2 separate regions of the Homo sapiens genome follow, and region 1 is linked to region 2. The links come from fine-mapping of genetic effects on gene expression. Tissue or cell type: NK cells. Region 2 holds a variant in brackets; the other region holds the start of a gene. All regions are shown on one strand. Distances are from middle to middle.

Region 1 (5,000 bases), 96 kb after region 2:
AACTGAAGGAGGAGCAGGGGAGGTCAGCAAGGAACGGGAGAGTGGGGATGGAGAGGCTGAGGGAGACCAGAGGGCTGGAGGGTACTATTTAGAAGAGGACACCCTCTCTGAAGGTTCAGGTGTAGCGTCCCTGGAGGTTGACTGTGCCAAAGAGGGCAATCCTCACTCTTCTGAGATGGAAGAGGTAGCCCCACAGCCACCTCAGCCAGAGGAGATGGAGCCTGAGGGGCAGCCCAGTCCAGACGGCTGTCTATGCCCCTGTTCTCTTGGCCTGGGTGGCGTGGGCATGCGTCTAGCTTCCACTCTGGTTCAGGTCCAACAGGTCCGCTCTGTGCCTGTGGTGCCCCCCAAGCCACAGTTTGCCAAGATGCCCAGTGCAATGTGTAGCAAGATTCATGTGGCACCTGCAAATCCATGCCCGAGGCCTGGCCGGCTTGATGGGACTCCTGGAGAAAGGGCTTGGGGGTCCCGAGCTTCTCGATCCTCTTGGAGGAATGGGGGTAGTCTTTCCTTTGATGCTGCTGTGGCCCTAGCCCGGGACCGCCAAAGGACTGAGGCTCAAGGAGTTCGGCGAACCCAGACCTGTACTGAGGGTGGGGATTACTGCCTCATCCCCAGAACCTCCCCTTGTAGCATGATCTCTGCCCATTCTCCTCGGCCCCTTAGCTGCCTGGAGCTCCCATCTGAAGGTGCAGAAGGGTCTGGATCCCGGAGTCGTCTTAGTCTGCCCCCCAGAGAACCCCAGGTTCCTGACCCCCTGTTGTCCTCTCAGCGCAGGTCATATGCATTTGAAACACAGGCTAACCCTGGGAAAGGTGAAGGACTGTGATTAGGACCACAGCCCTGGGCAAAGGGGACCAGCAAGTTGTCTTGAATCTCCAGGGTTCCTGACTAGCTGTCTCCTCTGCAGCATGAGCAGCTGTAGTGCCCAACTCTATAGGCTTTGGCCCTCCAGCTTCTCTCTTTGACTGTGGGAGGCACTGCCTTGGTTGGTTTACCTGAACTTGTCTCCGACACAAAGCACTTATCTCTTAGGAGATTCCCAAGAAAGTCAACAAGATCTTGTTCCCAGGGAGTGGGTCATTGGCCAAAGGGAACATAAGGTAGGCAGAAAACTTAAAAGAGTTTGTTAAAGTGAAGACTGGAGAAATTCCTCCCTTCCTCTGAGCTGTGAATCTCTCTTCATGAAAGCCAAAGGTAGAGACAGGGAGGACAGGGCCAGGTTAGGGCCTTCCACACACAAACACTTCTAGAGTTGCCCATTCCTGTTATGTTCTTGGACCCTAAGATACCTCCTGTCCCTTTTAAATCCAGATTAAGAGAAACGTCCAGGAAGAGCTCTTTGAAGCCCTCAATATTTGTTGGAGGGACTGGACTCCTCTCCAGCTCCCCACCCTCTGCCTCCAGTCACCATGTGCAAGAGAGGTCCTGTACAGATCTCTCTGGGCTCTCCTTTCTCCTTTGGAATAACTTGTTCCTATTTCAGGAAAGGGAAATGGTGTCACTCAGGCCCTGGGACTGCTTCTCCAGCCAGGCTGGGGCCACAGGTCCCACTCTAGTGAAGGTCAATGTCTCAGAATAAAAGCTGTATTTTTACACATAGTGTGGAGTCTCATTATTCTTATTAAAGTCTTTGGTGATAGGTATTATATCTTCACATATTTGGCAAAACATTCTTTTTCTTCTTCTTGTTTGGGTGCTCTTCCTCAGTTGTTGTCATGGAGACTAGTGGCCAGAAACTAGAGCTAGGTTCATGGTGGTCAGGAAATAAGGAAGAGAAACTTATATTTACATAATGCGTTCATTATGTGCCAGGAACTGGACTAAGTATCCTGTGCTCACAAAATCTATGTCCTTGATTTTATTTAATCCACACAATTCTGGAAGGTTGGTGCTAGTATCTCCAGTTTATAGATGAGGAAACTAAGGCTCAATTAAGTCAAAATGTTTGCCAAAGGTCTCAGAGGTAAGAAGTGGCAGAGATGGGTTTGAAACCTGGATCTGCCTGGCCCCCAAGCTTGAATTTTTCCCATTATACCACACTACTCCAAATCCATTCAGGGTAGGTCTTGATTGAGAAGAATGGGAATCAAGATTCCTGTCACAGAAGGTGTGAGCCTTTAGAACACTAGAAGCTTTGGGGTCTTTGGATGAGTGACTGCTGACGCGAATAACAAGGAACATATCCAATTCTATGCATGCCCCGATAGGTCGTAATCTCTAGCAGGTAACCTTTCAAAAAGACGCCCTGCGCCAAGATGGCCTCCCAAATAGCCCTTGTTAAAGATGGCGCCTCCGTCGGACGTCCCTCCCTTGATCTCAGCTGGATTCTCTTCTTTCCTGGAATGAAAAAATGCCCTGCCAAGCACTAAGATATTAGTACAAGTTAGTCGTCTCTTTCCCGTTCTTGTCGAAAGTGGCCAGGCCTTCAGCTACATTCTCCAGGACACGGCTTCTTTCCGGCTTCACAAATAACCCACAAACACCAACTCTCATCAAGATGGAGTGAGCGGAAGTGGGGCAGTTCTGAGTTTGAGTTTATGGGCGGGGCGAGAGCGACACTTCCGCCCCTCACCAACATGGCCGCGGGCTGGAAGTGCGCATGAGCAGCTGTCTATGGAGATACCTAGGCCGGGAGAGGGAGAACACAGTTGGAGAAAATCGGCAGCTGAGACGGCCTTGGCCGGTGAGTGTAGGACCGGGCAGAAGTCTGGAAACTGGGTGGACTGGCAAGGCAGGGCAGCTTTGATTTTGTTTCCGTTTTTCAAGTTAGAGAACACTGCTGGGGAGGAAGCCTTTGTTTTGGGGGAGGGGGCTGTGCTGGTTCTTTATCTCATACCCTGCTTTGTGGGCCAAACTCTCTCCCTTCCCCAGAGCGCGAGCGTCCCAGCCCTCCTGCGCTGTCCAGCTGCGCGCCGCAGCCGCCGGCACCGGGCGCTTGAGCTCCCTAGTCCCCGAGGCCCTTTCCTGCCTCCTCCGCGGAGCAGCTGGGGCGCGGGGCTAAGACTGCGGGGCTGCGGGGTCACGGCGCAGGCTCCCGGGCTCGCGCCTGGCGGGCGCTCAGCTCCGTAAGCGCCTTCTGGTTGGTGAGCCTGCAGGGAGACGCCTCATTCTAAGGCAAGGTCTAGGTGCCTGACTTCTTTCGGGAGTTGATTTTTTTTCCCTTTGTGTCCAGACTTAGCAAGGGCTCTTACTGGGCCCTTCTGGCCTGAGCGTGCACACCACAACGTCCCATCCCTGTTTCCGTGTCACCGATCCCTAATGCCTAGGAAATGCTTCCGGATGTCCAACTAAGATTTGAATAAGTACCCTGACCCCGTTGCTGGGTGTCCTCAGAGACTGCCCCGGCTGACAGCTGTGGCCAATAGAGATGCCTCCTGTGCCGGGCCCTCTATTTCATTGCCTTCCCCTGCAGTCAGCGCGGCAAGCTTCGCAGGGCATTTCCTCTTCAGGTTTGAAGATGGAAATGTAGGTGGTCCCAAAACACTAGTGCTACTTCCCCTTATCGACTGGGATCTCCTTGCAGCGTTACTTCGTCTGTACGGTTTCACTTTCAGTTCCTTTTTCAACATTTTCCTCGGACGCGGTCTTTCCGAGGCTTATCCATTGAAAATTTTCCTTGGATAGGAAAGGTTTGGAGGACCTTATGGGTAGAGAATTTCCAAAAATCTTGCCCCTTTTGTGTTGGGATTATCTTATTGCTTTGTACTGTGTAGCTGTTTCTTTCTGGAGGCATGTCTGCCCAGCTCTTTGTTTTTCCTGCCCTCTGGCTGGGTGTCAGGGTCCTAAGGCAGAGCTTGTAGGTGGATTCTTCCCCCTTTGTCTCTTCTTCAGAACCCTGTTTTTTTTTTTTTTACCCCTTCTTGCTCAGGCTTAGTTGATTTGGAGTTGTCATAGCAACATTTTAGCAACAGTGTTGTTCTGCAGGAAGGCTTGATGAATAAAATAGAGAATGCTTGAAGAGGATCCACTTGGGCTTTAGGGTTTCTAACAGATTATATAAATCTGGATACCCCAAAACAAGAGTCCTGTCAGTAGAATGGGGCCCAAATGCCAAGTCTAGTCTTTGTGGTCAGGGATATTCTTCCAGTGGTAGTGGGCTTCAGATTTCCTCTTCCTAGGTTTGAAAACAGAAATGTCTTGATGGACAACATGTGGCTGAGAAACTGGAAGAAGCATCAGTGTCCATGACACTGTATTTTTTGATGGTGGGGCCAATACATGGCCCTTCCTGATTCCCATGAAGCTGCCATCATGGCAGGTCATAATAGCTTTAATGATCCATTTAGAGATGTGTTGTTGGCTGGGTGCGGTGGCTCATGCCTGTAATCCAAGCACTTTGGGAGGCCGAGGCAGGCGGATCACCTGAGGTCAGGAGTTCCAGACCAGCCTGGCCAATATGGTAAAACCCCATCTCTACTGAAAATACAAAAATTAGCTGGGCGTGGTGGTGGGCACCTATAATCCCAGCTATTCAGGAGGCTGAGGCAGGAGAATCACTTGAACCCAGGAGATGGAGGTTGTAAGCCGAGATTGTGCCACTGCACTCCAGCCTGGGTGACAGAGCAAGATTCTGTCTCAGAAAAAAAAAAAAAAAAAAGAAAGAAATGTGTTGTTTCGGCCAGGTGCAGTGGCTCACACCTGTAATCCCAGCACTTTGGGAGGCTGCCGAGGTGGACAGATCATGCTCTCAGGAGTTCGAGACCAGCCGGGCCAACATGGTGAAACCCCGTCTCTACTAAAAATACAAAAATTAGCCAGGCGTGGTGGTGTGCACCTGTAATCCCAGCTACTCCGGAGGCTGAGGCAGGAGAATCACTTGAACCTGGGAGGCAGAGGTTGCAGTGAGCTGAGATCGCGCCACTGCACTCCAGCCTGGGTGACAGAGAGAGACTCTGTCTCAAAAAAAAAAAAAAAAAAAAAGTGTTGTTTCTGTCTTCCAGTATAATTATCCACTCTCCACCAGGAGTTGGAGTGATAATGGAGGGATGGGGAACACT
Region 2 (5,969 bases):
TTAGCAGTGACAGGGTTTCTCCATGTTGGTCAGGCTGGTCTCGAACTCCCGACCTCAGGTGATCCACCCGCCTTGGCCTCCAAAGTGCTGGGATTTGGGAGTGCTACAGGCATGAGCCACCATGCCCCGTCTTTTTTTTCTTTTTCTTTTTTTTGAGATGGAGTCTCGCTCTGTTGCCCAGGCTGGAGTACAGTGGCACAATCTCAGCTCACTGCAACCTCCGCCTCCCAGGTTCAAGCGATTCTCCTGCCTCAGCCTCCTGAGTAGCTGGGACTACAGGCGCCTGCCACCACGCCTAGCTAATTTTTGTATTTTCAGTAGAGACAGGGTTTCACTATGTTGGCCAGGATGGTCTCCATCTCCTGACCTCGTGATCCACCTGCCTGGGCCTCCCAAAGTGCTGGGATTACAGGTGTGAGCCACTGCACCCAGCCTTTTTTTTTTTTTTTTTTTTTTTTTTTTTTTTTTTTTTTTTAGACAGATTCTTGCTCTGTCGCCCAGGCTGGAGTGCAGTGGTGCAATCTCAGCTCACTGCAACCTCCACCTCCCGGGTTCAAGCGATTCTCCTGCCTCAGCCTCCCGAGTAGTTGGGATTACAGGTGCCCACACCACGTCCGGCTACTTTTTGTATTTTTAATGGAGACAGGTTTCTCCGTGTTGGCCAGGCTGGTTTTGAACTCCTGACTTCAGGTGATCCTCTCACCTCAGCCTCCCAAAGTACTGGGATTACAGGCATGAGCCACTGTGCCTGACCTGATTTGTATTTTTTTTTAAATATTAACATTAAAAGGATTAGCCATTTGTGATGAGTTGTAAATATTTTTCCCAGTTTGTTATTTGTCTTTTCTTTTGTTCATAATATTTTAAACAATATGAAAAATTTTCACATATGAGGTTATCAGTATTTTGCTTGTAGCTTCTCGTGGTGGTGTCACCATAACAGCAGTCTCGATTATTTTTTAAAAATTTTCCTCAGGCCCAGCGCGGTGGCTTATGCCTGTAATCCCAGCACATTGGGAGGCCAAGGCAGACAGATCACTTGAAGTCTGGAGTTCGAGACCAGCCTGGCCAACATGGTAAAACCCCGTCTCTACTGAAAATACAAAAATTAGCCGGGTGTGGTGGCAGGTGCCAGTAGTCCCGGCTACTCGGGAGGCTGAGGCAGGAGAATCGTTTGAATCTGGGAGGCAGAGGTTGCAGTGAGCTGAGATTGTGCCACTGTACTCCAGCGTGGGTGACAGAGCGAGACTCAGTCTAGAAAAAAAAAAATTTCCATTAGTGTTTTTACCCCCAAAAATTACAATGGCTTTATTATTTGTTTTAGCTTATTTGAACAATAGAGAAAAATAAAATTAACCCAAAAATACCACCCCAAGAGATTTTAAAAAGCCACTATCATTTTAGGTATATATTCTTCCAGACATCTCTATGTACACATTTCCAATCTTCTAAATCCTTTCAGTGTAATTCACTGTTCTAGGTTCTTGAGATGGATGCAGAACTCACAAATTCTCAGCTTTTCTTTCATCCTAAAATTTTTATTTATTTATTAACTTACTTATTTTAAAAGAGACAGGGGTCTCCCTATGTGGCCCAGGCTGGTCTCAAACTCCTGGCCTCAGGCAATCCTTCTTCCTTGGCCTTCCAAAGCACTGAGATTACAAGTGTAAGCCACCACATCCAGGCTCTTTTTTCTTATGTGCTCTTAAGACTATGTATTTTCCTCTAAGCACATTTTTTTCTTTTCTTTTTTTTCTTTTTTCTTTTTTTTTTTTGAGACAGAGTCTCACTCTGTCGCCCAAGCTGGAGTGCAGTGGCATGACCTTCGCTCACTGCAACCTCTGCCTCCTGGGTTCAAGCGATTCTCCTGCCCCAGCCTCCCGAGCAGCTGGGATTACAGGCACACGCCACCATACCCGGCTAATTTTTGTATTTTTAGTAGAGACAGGGTTTCACCATGTTGGTCAGGCTGGTCTCAAACTCCTTACCTTGTGATCTGCCCACCTTGGCCTCCCAAAGTGCTGGGATTAACAGGCGTGAGCCACCGCGCCCGGCCCTTTTTTCTTTCTTTCTTTCTTTTTTTTTAAGACAGAATCTCGCTCTGTCACCCAGGCTGGAGTGCAGTGGCGCAATCTCGGCTCACTGAAACTTCCACCTCCCAGGTTCAAGTGACTATCTCGCCTCAGCCTCCTGAGTAGCTGGGACTACAGGTGCCCACCACCACGCCCGGCTAAGTTTTTGTATTTTTAGTAGAGATGGGGTTTCACCATTTGGTCAGGCTAGTCTCCAACTCCTGACCTCAAGCAATCCACCTGCCTCAGTCTCCCAAAGTGCTGGGATTAAAGGTTTGAGCCATGGTGCCCGGAATGCTTTGTGACATTTTAAATTATCACTCAGGTCAAAATATTTTCTAACTCCAATTGTGATTTATTTTGTGGGTCATTTAAAAATGTATTCAGCACACTACAGCCTTAAACTCCTGGAATCAAGGGATCCTCTGGCCTCCAAGTAGCTGGGACTGCAGGCATGTGTCATTGTGCCCGGCTGTATTTAACTTGTAAACATAGGGACTTCCCAGTTACCTTTTTGTTACTGATTCTAGCCTCACTGTAATGTAGGCAAGAAACATACTTTGCATCATTTGAAGCCTTTGAAATTTGTTGAAACTTGCTTTATAGAACAATCTGGTCAGTTTCTTAAATGTTCCAAATGTGCTTGAACATGTGCTTTGTAATTTGAAGTCGTTGGGTATAGTGGACTCTATACGCTTGTTGAATCAAATTTACTGCTCGTGTTATTTAAATTTTCTATATCCTTGCTGATTTTTTCTTATTCTTTCTCTTTTTTTTTTTTTTTTTTTTTAGAGAAAGAGTTGGTCTCATTTTGTCTCTCAGGTTGAAGTACAGTGGTGCCATCATAGCTCACTGCAGCCTCAACCTCCTGGGGTCATGTAATCGTCCCACCTCAGCCTCCTGGGTAGCTGGGACTATAGGCATGCACAACCATGCTCAGCATATTTTTTTTTTTTTTTTGAGACGGAGTCTTGCTCTTGTCACCCATGCTAGAGAGCAGTGGCGCGATCTTGGCTCACTGCAACCTCCGCCTCCCGGGTTTAAGCTATTCTCCTGCCTCAGCCTCCTGAGTAGCTGGGATTACAGGTGCCCGCCACCACACCCAGCTAATTTTTGTACTTTTAGTAGAGACGGGGTTTCGCCATGTTGGCCAGGCTGGTCTCGAATTCCTGAACTCAGGCCCGCCCCGGCCTCCCAAAGTGTTGGGAATTACAGGCGTGACCCACCGCGCCCGCCCCTAATTTTTTTTTTTTTT[G/TG]TAGAAATGAGGGTCTCCCTATGCTGCCCAGGCTGGTCTTGAACTCCGGCCTCATGCAATCCTCCCATCTCAGCCTCCCAAAGTGCTGGGATTACAGGCATCAGCTACTGCACCTGGCCCTGACTTTTTCTATCAGTTCTGAAAGAAGTATACTCTATTAATTGAGAGAGGTGTGCTAAATCTCCTACGATGATTGTGAACTTGTCTATTTTTCCTTGTAGCTCGGTGCTGTATATTATTTGAGGTTTTGTTAAGTGCATACAAATTTAGAAATGTTTTCCGGCGTTGGTTGAAAATCACCCCCGGTTTTGGCCGTGGCCGCGGGTGAAATTCGGCGCGCAAGAGCCTCCGGGGGCCTCAGCTCACCGCGTGCTGCCGCCATGTGCGACGGTGAAACCCAGGCCCCGACAGGGGCCGCGGCCTCCCCCCGGGTGTGGCTGCTCGCGTGGTCTGACCCCTGACTCCTGACCCCGGCTGCAGACCCCTAACCCTATTTTTCTCTCCGCAGGACACTGGTCCTCCTACGCCTGAGACCGACGTTGCCAGGACCGCAGGGTCAGGGGGACTTGGCTGTCCCCCGTCTTTCAAATAAAGCTGTTTGTCTAAAATAAATAAATAAATAAATAAATAAATAAATAAATAAATAAATTTATTTTTTAACTTCCTGGTGAATTAAACTTATTGGTATAAAATGTCCTTATTTCTAGTAATGCTTTTTGCCTTCAAGTCAACTGTGTCTGATTTTAACATAAGCTTCTTTTGGTTTATGTTGCATAGCTTATCTTTTCCTATAATTTTACTTTCAACCTTTTGATAACCTTATTATTGTTTATTTATTTATTTATTTAATTTATTTATTTTTGAGACAGAGTCTTGCTCTGTTGCCCAGGCTGGAGTGCAGTTGTGCGATCTCGGCTCACTGCAAGCTCTGCCTCCTGGGTTCATGCCATTCTCCTGCCTCAGCCTCCTGAGTAGCTGGGACTACAGGCGCCCGCCACCACGCCCCGCTAATTTTTGTGTTTTTAGTAGAGATGGGGTTTCACCTTGTTAGCCAGGATGGTCTCGATCACCTGACCTCGTGATCTGCCCGCCTCGGCCTCCCAAAGTGCTGGGGTTACAGGCGTTAGCCACTGCGCCCGGCCTATTGTTATTTATTTATTTAAAAAAAAATTTTTTTTTGAGACGGAGTCTCGCTCTATCACCCAGGCTGTAGTGCGGTGGCACAATCTCAGCTCACTGCAACCTCTGCCTCCCGGGTTCAAATGATTCTCCTGCCTCAGCCTCCTGAGTAGCTAGGATTACAGGCACGGGCCACCACACCCGGCTAATTTTTGTATTTTTAGTAGAGACGGGGTTTCACCATGTTGGTCAGGCTGGTCTCGAACTCCTGACCTCAAGAGATCCACCTGCCTTGGCCTCCCAAAGTGCTGCAATTATAGGCATGAACCACCACGCCCAGCCTGTTATGTTATTTGAAAAAGAATGGTCTGGAATATAAGAGCATTTTTACTTAATTGAACAACCACCCAAAGAAAAATTGGTTAATTCTCTAATTAACTGGTGGGATTGGTGAGACAGGGTTGTTTTATGTTACGGTCTTTGGAATAACCAATGACTTGGAAAAAGTCATCCCCATGGGGGCAGCAAAGAGTCATTGATAAAGAGCCTGCTGAATTTCTGAAACCTGGTGAAACTTGTTATATATAATACAATAATAAATATTAGGTAACATTTATCCAGCACTAGGCCCTGTGCAACACTTTCTATACATCATTTAATATAATCATTAAAACAATGATCTGTAAGGTGGATGTTATATTTCTTTCACAGATAAGAAAACAAGTTTAGAGAAGTTAAGGAACTTGCCTGTCATATTAGTGAGGGTCAGAGCTGGGGAATGAAGAAAAGGGAACAGGTTGAGGCGACTTGAACAGCAGATCACTAGGATTCAGCAACTGATTGTGGTCCCTACTCCTTTTTTCTTTTTCTTTTTTTTTTTTGAGGCAGCAGGGTCTGGCTCTGTCACCCAGGTTGGAGTGCAGTGGTGCGATCTTGGCTCACTGCAACCTCGGCTTTCCAGGCTCAAGTGATCCTTCCACCTCAGCCTTCTGAGTAGCTGGAACTATAAGCACATGCCACCATGCCTAATTTTTGTATTTTTTTCTGTAGAGACAGGGTTTGGCCATGTTACCCAGGCTGGTCTTGAACTCCTGGACTCAAGCAATCCACCCGCCTCAGCCTCTCAAAGTCCTGGGACTGCAGGTATGAGCCACCATGTGTGGCCGAGGTCCCTACTCTTTTATTCGGGAGCCATAGAAGCCAGAACTGCAATAAATTCTAGTTCTGGACTTAGAGCTAGGTTCCAAGCTGAACTGAAATTAGGAGGAGCCAGTAGTATAATGCCTGGATGAAAATGAGTAACTGGGGCAGCTTAGAGTTAATAGGAAACCAAGAATAGAGCAGATCATCAGGTCAGCAAGTCCCTGCAGAGTAAAGCAGAAGAGTAAAGCCCTGGTAGGGACACAGGGATCCGAGTGGCCCTGGAAGAGTCAAGAGGATACTTGTGACAAGGGGCTAGTGCTAGCAAGATAGAGACTTCTTAAGGGAATATCTGGTTTGAAAAGATTAATCTGGCAGACCTG

Which allele goes with the higher level. Positions count from the first base shown, and alleles are read on the strand shown. Sizes are in standard deviations (SD) of each study's normalised expression.
As copies of G replace TG in region 2, the expression in NK cells of the gene that starts at base 2,567 in region 1 goes down (large effect, 1.4 SD a copy in Gilchrist 2021).

Evidence for each region. PIP is the estimated chance that this variant, and not a neighbour inherited with it, causes the effect.
Region 1: USF1 starts here. The variant in region 2 is fine-mapped to the expression of USF1 in NK cells (Gilchrist 2021, PIP 0.95).

The regions. Positions count from the first base shown.
Region 1 is chr1:161,043,544-161,048,543 of GRCh38, reverse strand. USF1 (upstream transcription factor 1) reads left to right here and starts at 2,567. Exons shown (of 11, transcript NM_007122.5): 1 at 2,567-2,686. It overlaps ARHGAP30 (Rho GTPase activating protein 30), which reads left to right. Exons shown (of 12, transcript NM_001025598.2): 12 at 1-1,598. The coding sequence ends at 829. RefSeq lists enhancers at 1,717-2,597, 2,208-2,687, 1,800-2,999, 2,598-3,478, 3,538-3,767.
Region 2 is chr1:161,138,979-161,144,947 of GRCh38, reverse strand. LOC124900457 (small nucleolar RNA ACA64) reads left to right here and starts at 3,612; the gene lies at 3,612-3,740. The variant G/TG (reference allele first, on the strand shown) is at 3,328.